Linked DNA regions of Homo sapiens: region 2 is linked to region 1. Evidence: fine-mapped expression QTL. A gene starts in region 1. The other region holds a variant in brackets. All regions are shown on one strand. Distances are between the middles of the regions. Region 1 holds the start of SNHG29 (small nucleolar RNA host gene 29). Region 2 holds the start of LOC124903936 (a long non-coding RNA gene).

Region 1 (5,367 bases):
TGCATGAAAAAACATTTCAGGAGGAATTTACAATTTCCAGCTTAAAGAACTTTGCCCACCAACATAACCAATTTATGAAAGTCAATTCATTAAAAGGTATAGAACCTCTTGTTGGGCATGATGGCAAGGGACAAAGCTACAACTTGGCCTGTGCCTTTGGAAGCTGAGGCAGGAGGACCATCTGAGCCCAGGAGCCTGAGACCAGCCTGGGCAACATAGAGAATCCGTCTCAACAAAAAAAAAATTTTAGCCAGGTGTGCTGTGAGCTGTAGTCCCAGCTACAAGGTGGGAGGATTGCTTAGGCCTGGGTGATTGAGGATGCAATGAGCTGTGATTGTGCCACCACACTCCAGCCTGGGCAATACAGCAAGACTGTCTCAAAAAAAAAAAAAAAAACCCAAAAAAACTCAAGAATGTAATGAATGATACCCAATGTGCCTTTTCTAGAAAAAGTTGCCAAATATATCTCTTGGATCTGCTGAGCATGTCCTCTGATACATAAGGCAAGCATGTTTCTACACCCAGTGTTGATGCCAGTTAGTTTTCAGAATCCAAACTGATGGCAGCTACTGGTCCTTGGGACTGACATCCTCTGGGAATATAACCTGCAAAGAAACTACATTTCAATCTCACTTTCTGCACCAACTGACAGTCAATCACAGGGTAAGAGATATCTTCAGAAAACCATAGGTTCACCACTACACAATCTGCCGGTAATTCCAGCTATTTTGGGTGATTTCATCATTTGATATCTTTTTTTTTTGAAGCGAGTTTTAACAAGATCAGCTGTTTATTCATTCCACTATGGGGTTGAAGGGATCATTGGCCAGCTCAAGGCTTACCTTCTCTTGGGCTGAGATGCTGCTGCCAGCTCTAAAACAGCACTCTGTTCTCAAAACCTGGGGGAATGGAGAAGGCGCATACACCTTAGAGACTGCAGATGCAGAGCAGGACAGGCATTTCTGATGACAGTCAATTAATGACTTTACAAATTTAAGTCCATCCTAACAAAAGCCCCTTAAGACCTAATTAGAGGTAATTTTTCTAAGTTTTTGTAAATTATTGAGGACTACAAATCTTAATTAGCTTCTCAGTAGGTTGTAATTTTTTTTTTTTTTTTGAGATGGAGTCTCGCTGTTGCCCAGGCTGGAGTGCAGTGGCACGATTTCGACTCACTACAACCTCCGCCTCCCGGGTTCAAGCGATTCTCCTGGCTCAGCCCCCAAAGTAGCTGGGATTACAAGTACACGCCACCACACCCGGCTAATTTTTGTATTTTTGGTAGAGATGGGGTTTCACCATGTCGGCCAGCCAGGCTGGTCTTGAACTCCTGACCTCAGGTGATCCACCCACCTTAGCCTCCCAAAGTGCTGGGATTACAGGCCACTGTGCCCAGCCTCAGGGGAGTTGTAATCTCCATTTCAGTCATATCAATTTAAACTTCACAAAGCTAAGATTACTTTTCCTTTTCACATCTGAGGAAAACTACATCTCAGCAGACAGGTAATTTGCCCGAGACTAAACAGCCAAGAGGTAAATAGAGTAGCCCCTCTTTCTAGGTAATCCACCCTGGCTCCACTGCCACCGGAAACTAAAATCAGTATCTCTGGGATAGGCTACACTGTTACAAGGTATTAGGTTAACCAAATCCAATTGCCAATATTCGACCTGACAGCTAGGCGTGGTCAGCCACTAGCCTCCCCATAGAGCAAGGCTTACCTCATGGCAGGCTCCTGGCTCCAATACTCAGCTGCCAAACATGATGCTGATTCTTCACGAATTTGCAACCTAGGTGAATATAGCAATTAGGTCACCGTTCAAACAAGTTTACTCCTGGGAACCAGCAAGTGGTGAAGACTTGACTGCAATCAGACAGGAGTAGTCTTCGTCAGTTATCGCTTCTGACGGCACTTCCTATTAGTGATTTCATCAGAGCAGTCAAGCACCTCACAACCCTCCAGTACTGTTCCAACCGCAGATCTAGACCCTACCTGAAACTTAAGCTAACCCTGCTACTGGAGACATTTCTTAACGAAGGAGTTTGTTTCTGCATTATCAGTTTGCTTTAAATGCAGTTCTAGGTTAGGACTGTGGCTGAAGCAGCCATCTCCAGTTTCTATTTAAGTTCCACCCTATGCAATGACATGATAACGTTACCCTAAAGTGTATAAAACACCTAAACGTAGAAAACTGTCAAAACGCCAATTTCCGTGCATTCAAGTGACAAAACTACGTTCCATGTTAAACCCTACACCAGAGAGCCTCTCACCTCGTGGCTACCCCGTCTTCAGCACTCTGCAGTGGGTACGCAATCTTAAAGAGGGAGTAAGGACAGGAATTCAGGGCAGGGCTCTGGCAGTTACGGTCAACTAAGTTGTAGAGGTTTCAGCGACTGCGGTCAGATAGACATTAGACGTCGTCAGTTATCGCTTCTGACGGCACTTCCTATTACAAGTATCATCAGGACAGTCGAATAAGTCTTCCAGTAATACTGTTACAATCTTACCGACGTACACCGCCCTCGGGGTACCCCAAACTGCAAGCCGACCCCAACTTACCCAGTTCTCTCGGGTTTGCACACCCCCACTGTGGGCCGGGGAACCGGGTCCCGGCCTTCGCAGACTCCAGGCTCTGGCAGATGTGGCCCTACCACAAAAGAGTGATCCATGAGCCTCAGCCACGGCAGCCGGATTCGGCCCCGCGCTGCCCTGCCAGGCTGTCCAATACCGGGCCGCAGCGCCCGCCGCGAAAGCCACGCGGGCGCAGGAGCCGGGGAGCCACGCCATCTCAACAGCTGCCCTCCGCCCTCTAGACAGGCTTCCCGGGAACATCTCCCCAGAGACCACAGAAGCTCGAGCTCTTTATTTGCTCTTGCCCCCCAGCTACTACTCCCAGATTCCTAGAGAGCCTACCTCCATAACAACGGGAATGAAAAGGTCACACCTTATGTGCGCCAGGCCCTTAAGGAGTCGGAATATCCCAATCCTCACAAAAGGAGGGGGACGCTGGCAAAGACTCATGGGAACTTTCCGCCAAGTAACGATTTAGACCGGCGCGCTACCCAGGACTCCCCCTCCTGTTGAGTCTATGGTCTCTTCCACAGCCCCGGGAATTCTGGGTCACAACACGCGCGGGGAGTTCCAGGGCGCCTGCGCGAGGGCTGGATCGCGCGTTTGGGCCCCACCTCCGCCACTCCTTAGCTGGGTGGTCTTGGGCCAATTACTCATTCTCTTTAAGCTTCCGATTGGTCCTCTAGTAAACGGAGACACCAGCGCCCCAGAAGATCACGTGAGATGACACACGTGAAAGCCTGTAGAGCTGTGGCACAAGGCAGCCATTCATCCTAGTAGCTCCTCCTGAATCTATTGAGCGTTGCCAAATACTCTCCCCACAGCTATTTCACCACATCCACGGGGCTTCTCAAACCCCTGCGCACTGGTCACCCTCATTACTCCTTTAGCACGACCTTTAGGGAACGAGCTGACGTCTTATCTAGATCCACGTCCATCCTCTGCTCGCCTCTGGGGTAAAGCTCTGCCCACCTCCTTTCCTCTCCTCATTCCTTGGGGCCTCCTCCACCTATGCCCCTGCCTCACCTTCCATGGAAAACTCTCTCTACTGTGGCTTTCCTTTCAGCCTATGAACATGCTCAGCTCTCTCCTTGAAAAAGAATCCATGCAACCACGTTTTGCACACACACGTTATACCAAGGGAAAGAAATTCATTTTGACTGCAAAAAACTGGGAAGACAATCATAAGACCTTTTGAGCTGGCCTCAGAAATAAGTGTAGGGTTTTTGTTGTTGTTGTTGTTGTTGCTCGTTTTTGTGTTTTTTTGAGACGGAATTTCGCTCCTGTTGCCCAGGCTGGACTGCAATGGCGCGATCTCCGCTCACCGCAACCTCTGCCTCCCGGGTTCAAGCGATTCTTCTGCCTCAGCCTCCCGAGTAGCTGGGATTACAGGCATGCGCCACCACGCCCGGCTAATTTTGTATTTTTAGTAGAGACGGGGTTTCTCCATGTTGGTCAGGCTGGTTTCGAACTCCTGAACTCAGGTGATCCGCCCGCCTGGGCCTCCCAGAGTGCTGGGATTACAGGCGCCCGGCAAGTGTAGGGTTTTATTTTATTATTATACTTTAAGTTCTAGGGTACATGTGCACAACGTGCAGGTTTGTTACATATGTATACATGTGCCATGTTGGTATGCTGCACCCATTAACTCATCATTTACATTAGGTATATCTCCTAATGCTATCCCTCCCCCCACCCCCAAGTGTAGGGTTTTAATGGAGGAGGGGGGCTTCCAGCAAGAGCCAGGTCAAGGGATCAAGCACGAGGTCTCTCGGCCTGCATGAATTTGGGGAGAGTGCTAAGGAGGGAGGGGCAACAGAGGTGGAGGGGAGGAGGTGTCTGGAACTGCTTGGGCAAAACCGTGGGGGTCTCGGGATGTCAGCTAGGGCATTCTGTGGGTACTGGGGAGCCTCTCAGGCCTTCAGAGCACAAAGAGGACATGTTTGTCTTATGTCTTAGGAAGGCCCTCTGGCTGCCCTGCAGAGAATGGCTTGGGAGGGGTGGGAATTGAGCAAGAAGCTCGGTAGGAAGAGAAAGCAAGAGAGGTGGCTTTAATGGGTTTTCCCAGGTACCTGCCCAAAAGCAGGGTGGGTGTGGAAAGCAAAGGGTGTCGTGGTGGAGAGAGAGGAGAGGTGGCTGTTTGCCCATGTCCATCACCATATATCTGCCACAACAATGGGCACAGCACCTCAGCCAGCTGCCTGTACCCAGGAAGAGGACAGTCCCCAGACTTGGGGATGTGGGGGTGAGGGTGGGGACACAGCAACTGAGGGTCTCTGTGCCCAGGCAAGGGCAGGAGCAACCTAGTCCCATACACAGACCTGTGCACACAGAGACATGCAGACATTGCCAGCTCTAAGGGTCCCAGCAACTCTGCCCAAATAATGTTTCCAGAAGAGTTAGTTAGTGAAAATATATATTTGCCACCAGAATTCACTGGGACCCCAGAGCCAGCAGATGTGGTTGGAAAGATCCTCTGCTCTGTCCTCTGGCCTCCTGCTGCATCTGGGCCATCAGTTGGACTGGAGGAGCTGGACGGGCACATAGTTTTCCTCAGAGGCACCATCCTCATCCTCCTTGGGAGGGGAAGCCAGGACAGGGTTCTCGAGAGTTCCTGTAAACAGATGGCAAGCACTGTAGCTTAACCCTTGAGTGTGTCCCCAGGAAGCAGGCACCAGGGAAACGGGGCCACAGTCATGAAAACACGTCATGCCGTGGGGACAGCCTCAGCGATCCTGGAGGCCAGCAATCCTTCTCCCTGCTTCCCTCACTCCACAAGCATTTCCCAATCCCCTGC
Region 2 (5,367 bases), 45 kb before region 1:
ATGGACAGACACCTGGAGACTCCCTGGAGATGTGGAGACTGGACAGGTCGTTACTACCTAGAAGCAGAAAGATGAGCATAATGACCTCAGAAGGTCACCTTTTTCCTTCCACCTCCACCTAAGAACACTTCTTTAGGCAAGCAGGTTGGAAGGCTACCAGACACCGAGCAGGGGGGCCCTACGCTGGGCCTGCTCTTCTTCCTCCACCTGGAATGCTTTTCATGTTTCCACTGAATGCACCTTACCTTTCCAGGGCCACCTTCCTGGGCATGTCAGCCGAAGCTCAGAGATCCATGTGGCTCTTAGTTCCTGCCACACTGGGAGGCATTCAATCCATGCAGAGTTTTTCCCTGATGTTCCTTTTGTTTGTCAGATAAGGTCAAGTGCTTCCTGAGGGCGGAGACCCACCACCACCACTGTTATCCACTGTATGGTATTGAAAACCTGTAGGCTCGTGGCATACCTTAGTGAGTCTGTGTGCCGTGAAGATGTGCGTACGCGTGTGTGTCTGCTGCTGTCGTCAGTGTGTCCTCAGAAAGCACTTGGATTCCCCAGCTACGGCTGTGCAACTGTGGGCTGATTTACCAGGCTTGTTAGTACTGTCATGAGACACAGCACGTTTGCTTTCCGTGTGGTTGGATTTCTGGGAGTGATGTCCACAGGGCTTGGCTGTTCCTGGCAGCCTGCCAGGCGGTGGTGTTCTTGGAGAGAGGAGTGGCATGGTGCCCAGGCTCTGTGGCACTACGGGATCCCATCCGGCAGGTGCAGTCTGGGGCCTCTGCCGAGGTGGCGGGAGGGGAGCGGAGCCTGATGGGAGAGTCTGGCCTCCACATTCCTGATCGGCTCTTGTGCTGAATCATGTTCATTTCCTTCACAAAGAGAAACCTTCCTTTTTAAAATCCGCCGCTCTCTGCCTGGGCTGGATCGAGGCTTTTCCAGTGATAAAGATGCAGAGGGATTCCTGTGTCAGAGCCTGCTTCATTGGTTTCCAAGGCTGCCAGGGACACTGGCTGGGGAAATAGCAGCCTCTGTAGTGGCTAAGCACGACCGCAGGGGCTGTAGCTGGGCCGGTTATTCTGACTTTAGGGTCTGGTGAGGCTGTGGGATGGGGTTGGGGGGTCCTTTTTTCTGGAACAAATGCCACCTCCTCAGAGATTACCAGAAACTGCTTTGCTGTCTTCAGAGGTCCTAAAGTACCCTGGCCTCCATCCATGGACCGTCAGGGTGGGTGCACCCTCCCCTCCCCCCAGTGTCATTTCATTGCCATGCGTGCTTTTCTGGGGCAGAGGCCATAAAAACTGGCACACAGTCTGTTTTCAGGAAATTCTTACAGAATGGATTGAAACTTCCCATCAGGCACACACTTCCTCCAGCCTCTGTCCCTGGCGTTCTCTCTCAGGAGACAGCGGGGTTTGGCTCAGACTTCTGAAGTGTTTCTACTGTGACCGTGGGCCTGGGTATTCCCCCACCCCGCTGTAACCTGTGGGGTGGAAGCCATGATTCCTCCCTGCATCCCCACTCCCTGTCTGCAGGGGAGAGACTCCTTGAAGAAGGGTTATCCAGTGACCAGGGTCTTCTCCAACTCCTCCATCAGGATGCAGAGGGGGTGGGGTCAGCATTGGAGATTCTCCCCGCAGTGTGGGGATCCTCAGCCAGCCATCTGTCTCCCCTTCCCCACCAAGAGCAGTGCTGCCGGTGCCCTGCAAGAAAACCACGCATGCGCGCCCACGCATACACACACACACACACACACACGAACACACACACACACACACACACACACACACACACACACTGCTTGTCCTGGCTCCTCCTGGCTGTTCTTGCCGACTGTCTTAGTCCTTTCCGGCTGCTATAACAAAATACCATAAACTGGGTGGCTTATAAACAGCAGATACTTATTTCTCACAGTCTGGAGTCTGGAAAGTCCAAGATGAAGGTGCTGGCAGATTCACTGTGTGGTGAGGCTGCTTTCTGGTGATGGTACCCTCTCGCTGCATTCTGGCATGGTGGAAGGAATGAAGGGTCTCTCTGGGGTCTCTTTTATATGGGCACCAATCCCATTCATGAGGGCTTTAGCCTTATGACTGAATCACCTCCCGTAGGCCCCACCTCCCGATACCATCACCTTGGGGGTTAGGATTTCAACATATACATTTGAGAATGGAGAGGAGGGGACGCAAACTTTCAGCACTGACTGTCATATCCTCTCCCATTAAGAGAAACTGGAATGGAGGTAGGAGAGGGCCCAGGCATCTAAAACAGCACATTTGGTTGCTGCGTCTTGGACTCACCATTACTAGAAGGGCTGGGTGTTCTGAATGAGAACAGAGACCTTGGCGCGCCAAGCAGGGGCGGGGACCCCCTCCTATGGTGCCTGCTCTCCTCCCTACCCCCACCCGGCCCTGAGCAGTGCCCACGTGGCTCTCCAGGAGCATTTCCCAGCTTTTTTTTTTTTTTTTTAACTTTTATTAGCTCAGACTCCTGGCTGCTGCAGCCATATGGAGCTCTGCCGACGGCTGCTGCTCAAAGAGATGTGGCATTTTGTTGTTTCTAACTTTATCTTAACCAGGAGAGACACAGGAGCACAGCTGAGAGTGGGGAGTGCCCTCGTATGTGAGTGTGTTGGGGCCACCTTCAGAGCTGCCCCTCGCTCCTGCTCGGCCCTCAGTGTCCGCGTGTCTTTCTGCCTCTCTGCCTCCCACTCCCTGCAGCTTTTCTTTGTGTCTCTGTTTCTTTCATTTTGTCTTCCCTGCTGTGTGTTTTTCCCTTCCCTGGGTGAGAAGCAGACTCTTGTTCCTCTGCCGGATCTTGGTCAGCTCCCCTCTCAGCCTCCCATCCTTTGCCAGCGGGAAGGTGGGGGAGTGGGGCCATGAGAACTGGAAGTGGTTGGTGGCGGTCAAGAAGGGTGCCCGGCTCGATTTGATTGTCTGAGTGTCAGCCGTGCCTTGGGCAGGAGAGCAGGCATTAGGGACACCTCCCCAATCTGCACATGGCTTTCTAGTCCATAAAGCCTTTTCTCATGTTTATTTTGCTGCTTAGGGGGTGGATTTTTTTTTGTTTTTTGTTTGTTTGTTTGTTTGTTTGTTTTTGAGACGGAGTCTCGCTCTGTCGCCAGGCTGGAGTGCAATGGCGCCATCTTGGCTTACTACAACCTCCACCTCCCAGGTTCAAGCAATTCTCCTGCCTCAGCCTCCTGAGTAGCTGGGATT[A/G]TATGCGCACACCACCATGCCTGGCTAATTTTTGTATTTTTAGTAGAGACGGGGTTTCACTATGTTGGCCAGGATGGTCTCGATCTCTTGACTTCATGATCCGCCCACCTCAGCCTCCCAAAGTGCTGGGATTACAAGCGTGAGCCACTGTACCCGGCCTCATTAGGTGGTTTTGTGAAGTTGACACAATGTTGCTTAAAGTAAAAATGGTGGTTTTTAAAATATTATAAAAGCAATATACAATTATAGAAAAATGAGAAAATTAGATGAGCAGAAAATTAAAAAAGTAGTATGCATTAAATCATTTATTCAACAATCGAGTTCCTGTTCCTCCAGGCACCAGTCTAGGAACTGGGGATGCAACAGGCAACCCACCAGGAGAAAACCATGGCAGCAGCTGTTTCCCTTCCTCCGGGAGGGATGGCAAGGACCCCAGAAGCCACCACCAGTACAGGTGCGCAGCGTGGCACAGAAGGGAGGCTGGCTTCACTGGGAGCCAGGAGCCCTCAGTTCTGGCCCCAGTGGAAACCCTAACTTGCCCAGCCCTTTCCCTTCTTTGGCCTCAGTTTCCCCAGTTCCAGAATGAAGGAGTGGTGGGCGAAATGACCCCTGAGTTTCCCTACCACTGCTGAGATTCCACCAGGTGCCTGTGGTTTTGGAAAGACCCATTCATTCCCATGTGTGGTCAGTTATTTCTTCCAGGCCCTGAGCCAGATTCACATTCGAACCCTAAGGTCACCCACCTTGGCCTCAGCTGGTGCAAGAGCTGGGATGCAGCGGTCCCAGGACAGAGAGGGGACAGATACCTCCCCACCAGGTACTGGGGCCGACCCCCATACTGCCGAGGCCAACCTGTCTGTGCTGACCGCAGTCCTAGCTGACGGAGGGTGAAAGGCCACATCACATGGTGCCAGGGGCAGAGGCCAGAACCAGGGAACCTGCAGACTTTCACACATGAGCAAAGCCCAGCCCTCACAGAGGCCCGAGCTGCCCTGTGTGCCACAAACCATTCATCTCAGAGCACTGGGGAGGGTAATGAGGCTGGGGCAGGCTCTGCTGGGACCTGCTGTCCACATGACTCAGTGCCTGGCTCCCTTGCCACCTTTCTGCCTACTGTGGGGCTGCTCTGGCCCCTTGCACATCTGGTCTCTCTCCCCTCCCTCTACTTCCCACTCTGGCTTCCTTCTCTGAGGGGCTGCTCTCCATGCTCGTCTGGATGGAGCCTGTCCCCACTCCAGCCTCTGTCCTGTCCACAGAGACCCAGACCTGCCAGCCCCAGCCGAGCTTCAGGACCTTTGCCTTCAGAGGGCAAGAACCCTGCCTGGCACCTGACTGTGCACTAGTACTTGGTTCTTTCACTCAGCATACGTCCCTGGGCACCTAAGTGGAGCTGGCACCAGTTGGGACAAGTAGGGAAAGCAGGGCCGGCCAAGATGCTAATTTCTAGAAGGGCTCAGGGCAGTCGCTGATGCCATAGAGGACTGGCAAGTGACTGCAGGGCTGGCCATGGTCAGATTCCAGCTCTGCCCTTGTCTCTGGCCATGGGGGCCTACACAGGTGCAGGGCACGGCACACACTGGCTGCTGGGCAAACCCCTTTCCTCAGTGGGGCTCATGAGTGGACACAGGCGCTAGGCCCAGGACCTGTGGGAAGCCCCGTCTCCCCCACTTCCTAGGTGGGCTTGCCTGACCTGCTCTGCTGGTGCCTCCCAGCGGCCCTGGTCCTCAAGCCTGTCCCTCTCCTGCCCACTTGGCCTTCCCACGGCCCTCAGCCCAGGTCTCTCCCAGAGCATGCCAGGGACCTGTGGGAAGAGCCCCCAGCTATCTCGGAACCCCCTGCAGTGCCCCCTCCAGGCACATTCCCACCCCATAGCCGCTGTCCCCATGGAGCCTCCACCCACAGATACAGGTGCCAAGGAGGCTTGCAGGACACCCTCGTCCACTGAAGGACACCCAGCACCACAGGGAGCCAGCACTTGCAGCCTGGGAAGTCGGCAACCTGTGATGCCCCCCATCCCACCCCACTGCCCTTAGTTTCTGTCTATGCAGTCACAGCCTCCTGGAGCCCCAGGTTCAGGCCCTACCCAATAGAAAGGGGCAGGAGTGGGGCAGGTTTCTCTCCATTGGCACCGGGGGCAGGTAAGGGCCCAGGAGGT

What was found.
Region 2: its variant is fine-mapped to the expression of SNHG29 in whole blood (TOPMed, PIP above 0.99).

What each region holds. Positions count from the first base shown.
Region 1 is chr17:16,436,606-16,441,972 of GRCh38, reverse strand. It overlaps SNHG29 (small nucleolar RNA host gene 29), which reads right to left and starts at 2,986. Exons shown (of 4, transcript NR_045025.1): 1 at 2,913-2,986; 2 at 1,720-1,788; 3 at 843-899. TRPV2 (transient receptor potential cation channel subfamily V member 2) reads right to left here. Exons shown (of 15, transcript NM_016113.5): 15 at 4,970-5,184. The coding sequence ends at 5,084. It overlaps LRRC75A (leucine rich repeat containing 75A), which reads left to right. Exons shown (of 4, transcript NM_001113567.3): 4 at 1-396. It overlaps SNORD49B (small nucleolar RNA, C/D box 49B), which reads right to left and starts at 2,464; the gene lies at 2,417-2,464. It also overlaps SNORD49A and SNORD65. RefSeq lists enhancers at 1,781-2,682, 2,988-3,317, 3,378-3,567, 2,683-3,582, 3,583-4,484 and 1 more.
Region 2 is chr17:16,482,060-16,487,426 of GRCh38, reverse strand. The region is part of intron 1 of LRRC75A (leucine rich repeat containing 75A); the gene reads left to right. LOC124903936 (a long non-coding RNA gene) reads right to left here and starts at 1,773. Exons shown (of 3, transcript XR_007065641.1): 1 at 246-1,773; 2 at 1-57. RefSeq lists enhancers at 1-521, 522-1,447, 2,373-3,299, 3,556-4,372. The variant A/G (reference allele first, on the strand shown) is at 3,213.